Homo sapiens: one gene and its partner. The protein of the gene in region 1 interacts with the protein of each later gene in a pairwise test. Each region holds a gene or a part of one and is shown in the gene's direction. Other genes may lie near its edges.

What was found.
Region 2: the proteins of ODC1 (region 1) and MAP2K1 interact in a two-hybrid assay, tested with the Homo sapiens proteins (one large-scale study listed by BioGRID and IntAct).

What each region holds. Positions count from the first base shown.
Region 1 is NC_000002.12:10,445,264-10,449,772, reverse strand, and holds the start of ODC1 (ornithine decarboxylase), read left to right. Parts: upstream 1-1,445; 5' UTR 1,446-1,652; intron 1,653-1,760; exon of another isoform or gene 1,761-2,299; intron 2,300-2,923; exon of another isoform or gene 2,924-3,059; intron 3,060-4,508; 5' UTR 4,509-4,509. UniProt on the Homo sapiens protein: Catalyzes the first and rate-limiting step of polyamine biosynthesis that converts ornithine into putrescine, which is the precursor for the polyamines, spermidine and spermine.
Region 2 is NC_000015.10:66,484,412-66,487,911, forward strand, and holds part of MAP2K1 (dual specificity mitogen-activated protein kinase kinase 1), read left to right. Parts: intron 1-578; coding exon 579-780; intron 781-2,816; coding exon 2,817-2,881; intron 2,882-3,500. UniProt on the Homo sapiens protein: Dual specificity protein kinase which acts as an essential component of the MAP kinase signal transduction pathway.

The sequences.
Region 1 (4,509 bases):
AACAGGTATTCACTGACTGTGCCTCAGACCTGGTTTTGGGTACCAAGGAAGTTTTTCAAAACCTCACAGGGCTTTGTAGCTATAAAGATATGTAAGGATCCTTGGGTTATCTGAAGCCCAGAGAAGGGAGATAACTTGTCCAAGAGCACACAGCAAGTTGGGGGCAGCGCTGGGCCAGTGCTCTGAGCTCCTCCAACCCCGCCCCCACCCACCCAAGGCTAGATCTAGATCTACCCACTCCTCTCCTTAACTCTTCATCGGCTGTACTCCCACCCTAAGGAGTCGAAATCCCCACCCTAGGGAGAGACATATCCTGTCTGGATTGTCCAAAAGGGAATGAAAGGTAAAAATGAAAAAAAAAAAAAAAAGTGTCCCCAATTCAAGTGCAGTGCCTCCCTGGTGCGGGCATTCCAGCGTGGCCTGGAGTGAGTGGCAGTCCACCTCCAGAGGCGTCCCCTGGGCGCTCCTAGGGACTCGAATTTCCCACGCGGCTTTTTGCTTTATGTATTCACTGTTTAGACGTTTTCGGTCAAAGCATTTTGGGACTTCCGTAACTCTCAGAGCGCGCCAGGGAGCCGCCCTTAAAGATACCTAGTTACTGATGAGTTCCATCCGGTAAAGCAGAGGGTAGTGGGCGGCTTGGAGACTCAGGATCCGGGTCCCCTCACGCTCCTGGCTGAGTCCCTGGCTTCACAGGGGAAACTACCTCCGCAGGCCAGGACCCATCTAGTTACAGGATACCTCGATGTTACAAAGACGAGGCTTCCAGCGCGGGGGCGTGGAGGCGGCTGCCAGCCCTGCCCGCAGCGTGCTGGCGACCCCCGGGACGCCCCTTCCCTCCCGCGCCTCTGCTCCCTAGCTGGTGGGAGCAGAGCGGCACCGGGATCACTTCCAGGTCCCTTGCACCGGAGGAATGGGCGGCAGCAGGGTCCGGAGTCGGCCCGGCGGGGCCCACGTGGCCAGCACATCGGTCCTCCGCTCGCGATTTCCCTTTTCCGCTCTCGGGCACGAGGTACTGAACGCCAGGTGGAAGCACAGCTGTGCAGCTACAGGCTCTGCCGTTCAGCTGCCGCGGGCCGGGGCCGGGGCCTGCGGCGTCGTGCGCGTGCGCGGACCAGTTCCAGGCGGGCGAGACCGCCGCAGGGCGGGGCGGGGCGAGGCGGCCGCAGGGCGGGGAGGGCGGGGAGAGGCGGCCGCAGGGCGGGGAGGGCGGGGCGCGAAGCCGGGGGCGGGGGCCACGCGTGGGGCAGGCGGTGCTCGGCTCGGCTGACGTCGGCCCGCCGGCGCCCCACCAGCTCCGCGCGGGCCCGGGTTGGCCACCGCCGGGCCCCCGCCCCTCCCCCGGCGGTGTCCCGGCCGGAACCGATCGTGGCTGGTTTGAGCTGGTGCGTCTCCATGGCGACCCGCCGGTGCTATAAGTAGGGAGCGGCGTGCCGTGGGGCTTTGTCAGTCCCTCCTGTAGCCGCCGCCGCCGCCGCCCGCCGCCCCTCTGCCAGCAGCTCCGGCGCCACCTCGGGCCGGCGTCTCCGGCGGGCGGGAGCCAGGCGCTGACGGGCGCGGCGGGGGCGGCCGAGCGCTCCTGCGGCTGCGACTCAGGCTCCGGCGTCTGCGCTTCCCCATGGGGCTGGCCTGCGGCGCCTGGGCGCTCTGAGGTGAGGGACTCCCCGGCCGCGGAGGAAGGGAGGGAGCGAGGGCGGGAGCCGGGGCGGGCTGCGGGCCCCGGGCCCCGGGCACGTGTGCGGCGCGCCTCGCCGGCCTGCGGAGACACGTGGTCGCCGAGCGGGCCACGACCTTGAGGCGCCGCTTCCTCCCGGCCCGGGGTTCTCCCGCGGCTGGATAAGGGTGATCCGGGCGCCTCGTTCTGCCCCCGTCTTCACAGCTCGGGGCTGGAGGGGCCTAGGGGAGACCCACCCGGAGACCCTGCGGCCCCGCGCCGGCCTCTTTCCCAACCCTTCGGCGGCCGCGCGCTGGCCGGGGAGCCGTTGGGGAGGCCCTGGCGGCCGCGCAGCAGGTGCAGGGGCGCAGAGCCCGGGCTCGCCTTGGTACAGACGAGCGGGCCCCGGCCTTGGCGCCTTCAGTTTCCTTCCAGTTTTTATTTTCGCTGTGTCTACAGAGCAGATGACACCAATTTGGAAACCCGCGAGAGTGGGTAGAGCTAAGATAGTCTTGCTGTAGTAGCTGTGATATTAGATGCTCGGCCATGACTTAGAGGTGTTTATTTAAGGACTGTGAATGACTCGGTGATTTCGGAAAAGCTTGGCTTAGATGAACGGACATACACAGGGGAGACAGCCCTAAGGTTTGCAGAAAAGGCTGATTGTGCTGTTTGCGAAGTCGAAATAATTGGTGAAAGTGTAGAAGGCAGAACCTCTCAGGAATGTCTGGGGAGGACAAAGAATGTGTTGGCTGACTTTGTTTAAACATAAAATTGGGCAGACTTTAATTGATTTGTGAAATTTTTTTCAAAGTTTGTTTGAATTAGCCCCTATCTCTTCTAACATTATCCTCTTGTGCTAATTGATTGACCATTTTAAATAACTTAGCTGTTACAGAAAGACCGAAAGGTGTTCTTCAGTAAAATATATTCAAGTAAGTTACTTAAGTAACGCCTTAAAAGATACAGAAAAGCAAAAAAGTATTGGCGTATTAAAAAGAAATCAAAACTTTCCAAGTTTAGGCCTGAACATTGCCTTAAAAATATTTAATAAGGCCTCAAATGACCCAGTCCGAGACTGCATGAGCCTATTTATTATTAAATTGTAAATATTCTTCATATAAACAAAAATATATAACCATGTCTGTAACAAAAATGGTTTTGCTAGCGTTGTTACTCTCTTCCCTTCTCCGAGGGGTGATTTAGGCAACTTCGGAGGTTGACAATGCCAAGCAGTCACAATAGATAGAGCTTTAAAGCAAATTCTATGCATGGGTTTGGATTTATGACAGGCCCGTCACCCTGGGCCTGTCATAGTACCCCATGCCAGAGCAAACTGTGTCCCCGAACCATTGCCTGGCCTCTGTGCCCGTAGGCTGCTGGCACTGAAGTGGGTTGCACAGTGGAAAAGAAGAAAGCTCTACCTGGCAGAAATTTTTAAAGGTTAAAATAAATAATTTTAAGAAAGCTGGTTCACAAGGTGCCACATTTGATGAAAGCAAAATACAGTGGCTTTTATTGTTACTAGAGTGATGTTCTTGCTTGTTTTTCTTTTTTGGTGAAGTTAGCCCCAAATTATTCTCATAGCTAAGCAAATACGAGAGTGACTGTAAGGACAGTTGGCATTCCCGGAATTGCTAAACTTGGTAGGCAACGCTGGTTTAAGAATACTGAGTTCTAGCCGGGCGTGGTGGCTCACGCCTGTAATCCCAACACTTTGGGAGGCTGAGGCAGGCGGATCACCTGAGGTCGGGAGTTGGAGACCAGCCTGACTAACATGGAGAAACGCCATCTCCACTAAAAATATAAAATTAGCCAGGCCCCGGGTGTGGTGGCACATGCCGGTAATCCCAGCTACTCGGGAGACTGAGGCAGGAGAATCGCTTGAACCCAGGAGGCGGAGGTTGAGGTGAGCCGAGATCATGCCATTGCACTCCAGCCTGGGCAACAAGAGTAAAACTCTGTCTCAAAAAAAAAAAAAAAAAATACTGAATTCTGATCAGGTAACAGCAACTGTAATACAATGTGATAAGTTGACTTGAAGATTACAGTTTTTAAGAAGTATATACCCAGCTAATACATGAAAATTAACTCGTAAAATCTCAAATGCTCCAGACATTTCCATGATGCCTGTTGGTCAGTAAAAATCATTCTAAGACTTAGTGGAAGTAGGAAATGTTTGTATGGCTGTGTATAAAGGCTATAATGTAATCCCAGCACTTTGGAAGACCGAGGCGGGTGGATCACCTGGGGTCAGGAGTTTGAGACCCACCTGGACAACGTGGTGAAATCCTGTCTCTACTAAAAACACAAAAATTAGCCGGGCATGGTGGCAGGCGCCTGTAATCCCAGCTGCTGGGGAGGCTGAGGCAGGAGAATCGCTTGAACCCGGGAGGCAGAGGTTGCAGTGAGCCAAGATTGCACCGCTGCACTCCAGCCTGGGTGACAGCGTGAGACTCTGTCTCAAAAAAAATAAAAAAGTCTATAATGCTATTTTAAGTTTCTAAGGAACTGAAACTGCTCTGAAATAAATCAGACCATTATAAGACTTTTTTCCATATCAGTGAGCTAAGTGCAGATAAGCTTCTGAAACTTGCATGCTAGATTTTTTTGGTACAAATATTTGAAATGCTTAGTGTGCTGCCTTGGAAAAACCTGGTATTTTTTGTTGTGTCCTTATACTGCCAAGGTTTATGGAATCATGTACCTTATGCCTAGTAATAATTAGGATGACCAGGCCAGTGAGTGGTTCATATCCGGGGCATGATTAGCTCTGCGTGTGCTCAGCCAGTGCCCCATCTTCAACTCGATGTGTTCCTAAGGTAGACAGCAAATTCCCTATTTTATTTCTCAGA
Region 2 (3,500 bases), on another chromosome or scaffold:
TGCTGGGATTACAGGTGTGAGCCACTGCGTCCCGGCCCAGCAGCAGCCCCATTTTATAGATGAGGCTGATATTCAGGATCTTTTAGCTTGTAAGTCCCGGAATTGGGATTTAAGTCTCAGGCCCACTGACCCCAGATCTTTTGTTCTATGTATCCACGGCACCACCTCACTCCCAACCCGCATTCCACAAGCTTCATGTTTCAGATTCAGTGACAAGATGAGCCTCTCATGCTGGGCTTCGGACAGGCTGCCCTGCGTGTGCAAGACTGTGGCCAAGCTGGGTAAAGCTGGAACCACAGGCTGTAGTGGCAGCCAGGGCACAGCTGATTACATGTGGTCTGTCAATTTAGGCCAGATTATAGGAGAAATAGAGCAGGGATGAGGGGTTAAAGCCACAGAAGCCAGCTAGGATTTGGTAAACACAGTGTTGGGGGTAGGCAGGAGGCCAAATTCAAGAGGTTAGTGGAGCTCTTGAAACAGGATATGAACTATTGAGAAGGGACAGAAGAGAAAATGCATTAGCAGACCCAGGGGTCCAAGTTAGGTTAGGTGATTATCACTGTCTGTCTCTCCTGCAGCCAGAAAGACTCCAGGGGACTCATTACTCTGTGCAGTCAGACATCTGGAGCATGGGACTGTCTCTGGTAGAGATGGCGGTTGGGAGGTATCCCATCCCTCCTCCAGATGCCAAGGAGCTGGAGCTGATGTTTGGGTGCCAGGTGGAAGGAGATGCGGCTGAGACCCCACCCAGGCCAAGGACCCCCGGGAGGCCCCTTAGCTGTGAGTAGCCTGGTGTGTCCCCATCTTGGACTGTTGGAGGGGAGGGTCCCTTACTTTCAGGGGTTTCTGGAGGGCTGATTCTCTGTACATTCTGCCAAGACTGATTCTCTGTCCCTGGATGCCAGGCTAGGGCCAGGGGAAGCAGCAAGGGTCTCCAGGTGGGTGTTGTTACTACCAACAACTTCCTACCATTTGTTGAGTACGTACTATGTTCTAGGTACTGCACTTAGGACTTTATACATTATCTAACCTTTTGTATTTATTATTTTTATTATTAAGGGTCTTGCTATGTCGCCCAGTGCAGTGGCTAGTCACAGTCTTCAACTCCTGGGCTCAAGCAGTCTTCCTCCCTCAGCCTCCAGAGTAGCTGGGACTACAGGTTATAATTTATTTGCGGGGGTTGGGAGGGAAGGGGCTCACTCTGTCACCCAGGCTGGAGTGCAATGGCATGATCACAGCTCACTGCAGCCTCAACCTCCCAGGCCCAAGTGATCTTCCTACCTCAGCGTCCTGAGTAGCTGGGACCACAGTCACATGCCACCATGCTCAGCTAGGTTGTTGTTTATTTTGTAGAGATATAGTCTCCTTATGTTGCTCAGGTTAGTCTTGAACTTTTGGGCTCAAGCAATCCTCCCGCCTCAGCCTCCCAAAATGCTGAGATTACAGGCATGATCCACCATGACTGGCTTCTAATTTGTGGGTTTTTTTTGTTTTGTTTTGTTTTTGATACTGGGTCTTGCTCTGTCACCCAGGGTGGAGTACAGTGGCGCCATCATGGCTTACTGCAGCCTTGACCTCTTGGGCTCAAGTGATCCTCCTGCCTCAGCCTCCTGAGTAGCTGAGACCACAGGCATGCGCCACCATGCCTGACTAATTTTTTTAATTTTTTTGTATAGATGAGGTCTCACTATGTTGACTAGGCTGGTCTGGAACTCCTGGGCTCAAGTGATCCTCCTGCCTTGGCCTCCCAAAGTGGTGGGATTATAGGCATGAGCCACTGCATTCTAATTTTTTAATCATGACTTTTGGTAGATTTATTTTTTATTGAGATATAGAATTCACATAAGACAAAATTCACATTTTAAAGCATGTAGTTCAGTGGTTTTTAGTGTATTGTTCCATGTTGTGCAGCCATCACCACTGTCTTATTCTGGAACATTTTCATTACCCCAGCAAGAAACCCCATCCCCCACTCCCCCCTGCCTGATCCACTGACAACCACTAATCTACTTTCTGTGTCCACGGATTTGCCTAGCATTATATAATTTTAATAGCATTTCATTTGTGATCACGACTATAATCTGAATTTTAAAGATGAGGAAACTGAGGCACAGTGCACTTGTCAAGGCCACATAGGCTTGCAAGTAGCCAAGTCTGACTCCCAAGATGATAAACACTGTGCAGTACCACCTGCCTCTCTGAATGTGAATACTGGGAAGTAAACCTGGTACTCAGGGAATAGCCTGACCTAGCCAACTGTTTTTTATGTAGCTCCTGTCTGGCCAGGGATACCTGCCCTGTACCTCCATGAGGTCCACATGAGAGAGAGCTTGTATAAAGGGGAAAGCAGAGGGGGCTAGAGGTAGCTGATGGCAGGTCATTGGAGGGGCTGGTGGCTGTGGCCTCTGAGGCTCGCCAGTGACTCTAGGAGACAAAAGGAAGAAACGCAACTTCATGGAGAATTAAAACTAAGTCCTTTAGTTATTTAGTTGCTATCTCATTTGTGCCTCTCTCAATAGAAGGAAGGGGGAAAGGACAGACATAATTATTATGTCTCTGCTTTACAAAACTCAGAACTTTGTTTGGCTCAGCAGTGAACTGATTTGCCAAAGGTTACGAACTTAAGATGTGGCAGAGCCCAGACTTGTACCCTGGCCTTTGCTGGTCCCCTCTGTGTTCAAGCCTTATCTGTGGCTGTTTAATGTTTATTGTCCATGACCCTGTTCTGGTCCCAGGGATCCATGCCCAACCCCTTGCCTCATATTAACAAGTAATCTGTTTCTGAGAAGTATTTTTTCTTTTTATAAAATTTGTAGCATACGGAATGGACAGCCGACCTCCCATGGCAATTTTTGAGTTGTTGGATTACATAGTCAACGAGGTAAGTACTGCCTGGTTTCCTTCACCTTGGAATTTACTTGCTCATCTTAAGAAAACACCCAGGTGGCCGGGTGCAGTGGTTCACGCCTGTAATCCCAGCAGTTTGGGAGGCTGAGGCGGGTGGATCACACGAGGTGAGGAGTTCGAGACCAGCCTGGCCAACAAGGCAAAACCCCATCTCTACTAAAAATACAAAAATTAGCTGGGCATGGTGGTGCACGTCTGTAGTCCCAGCTACTCGGGAGGCTGAGGCATGAGAATTGCTTGAACCTGGGAGGCGGAGGTTGACTCTGGGAAAAACAAAACAAAACAAAAAAACAAAAAAACACATCGCTGTCACAGGTTCAGTCTACTAGGGAGTTTAATTTAACCTCTCTTTACTGTATGCACAGCTTTATACTAAGCACCATGGGCTGTAGAAAAGCAGTTTCAGGATTAGTTCGTCGCTGCTTAAGGATTTGAGGGAGGCAGAGCATGTTGCATTTGTAGGAGTCAGAAAAAAAGCCATCCATCCTCTACTGCTGGGGACCTAGGCTAGGTGGTTCTGGGTGGTAGTCATATTAAGGGAAGGGATATCTGAGGTTAGATACGCCATTGCGTCTCCTAGTGTGCACTGCTTT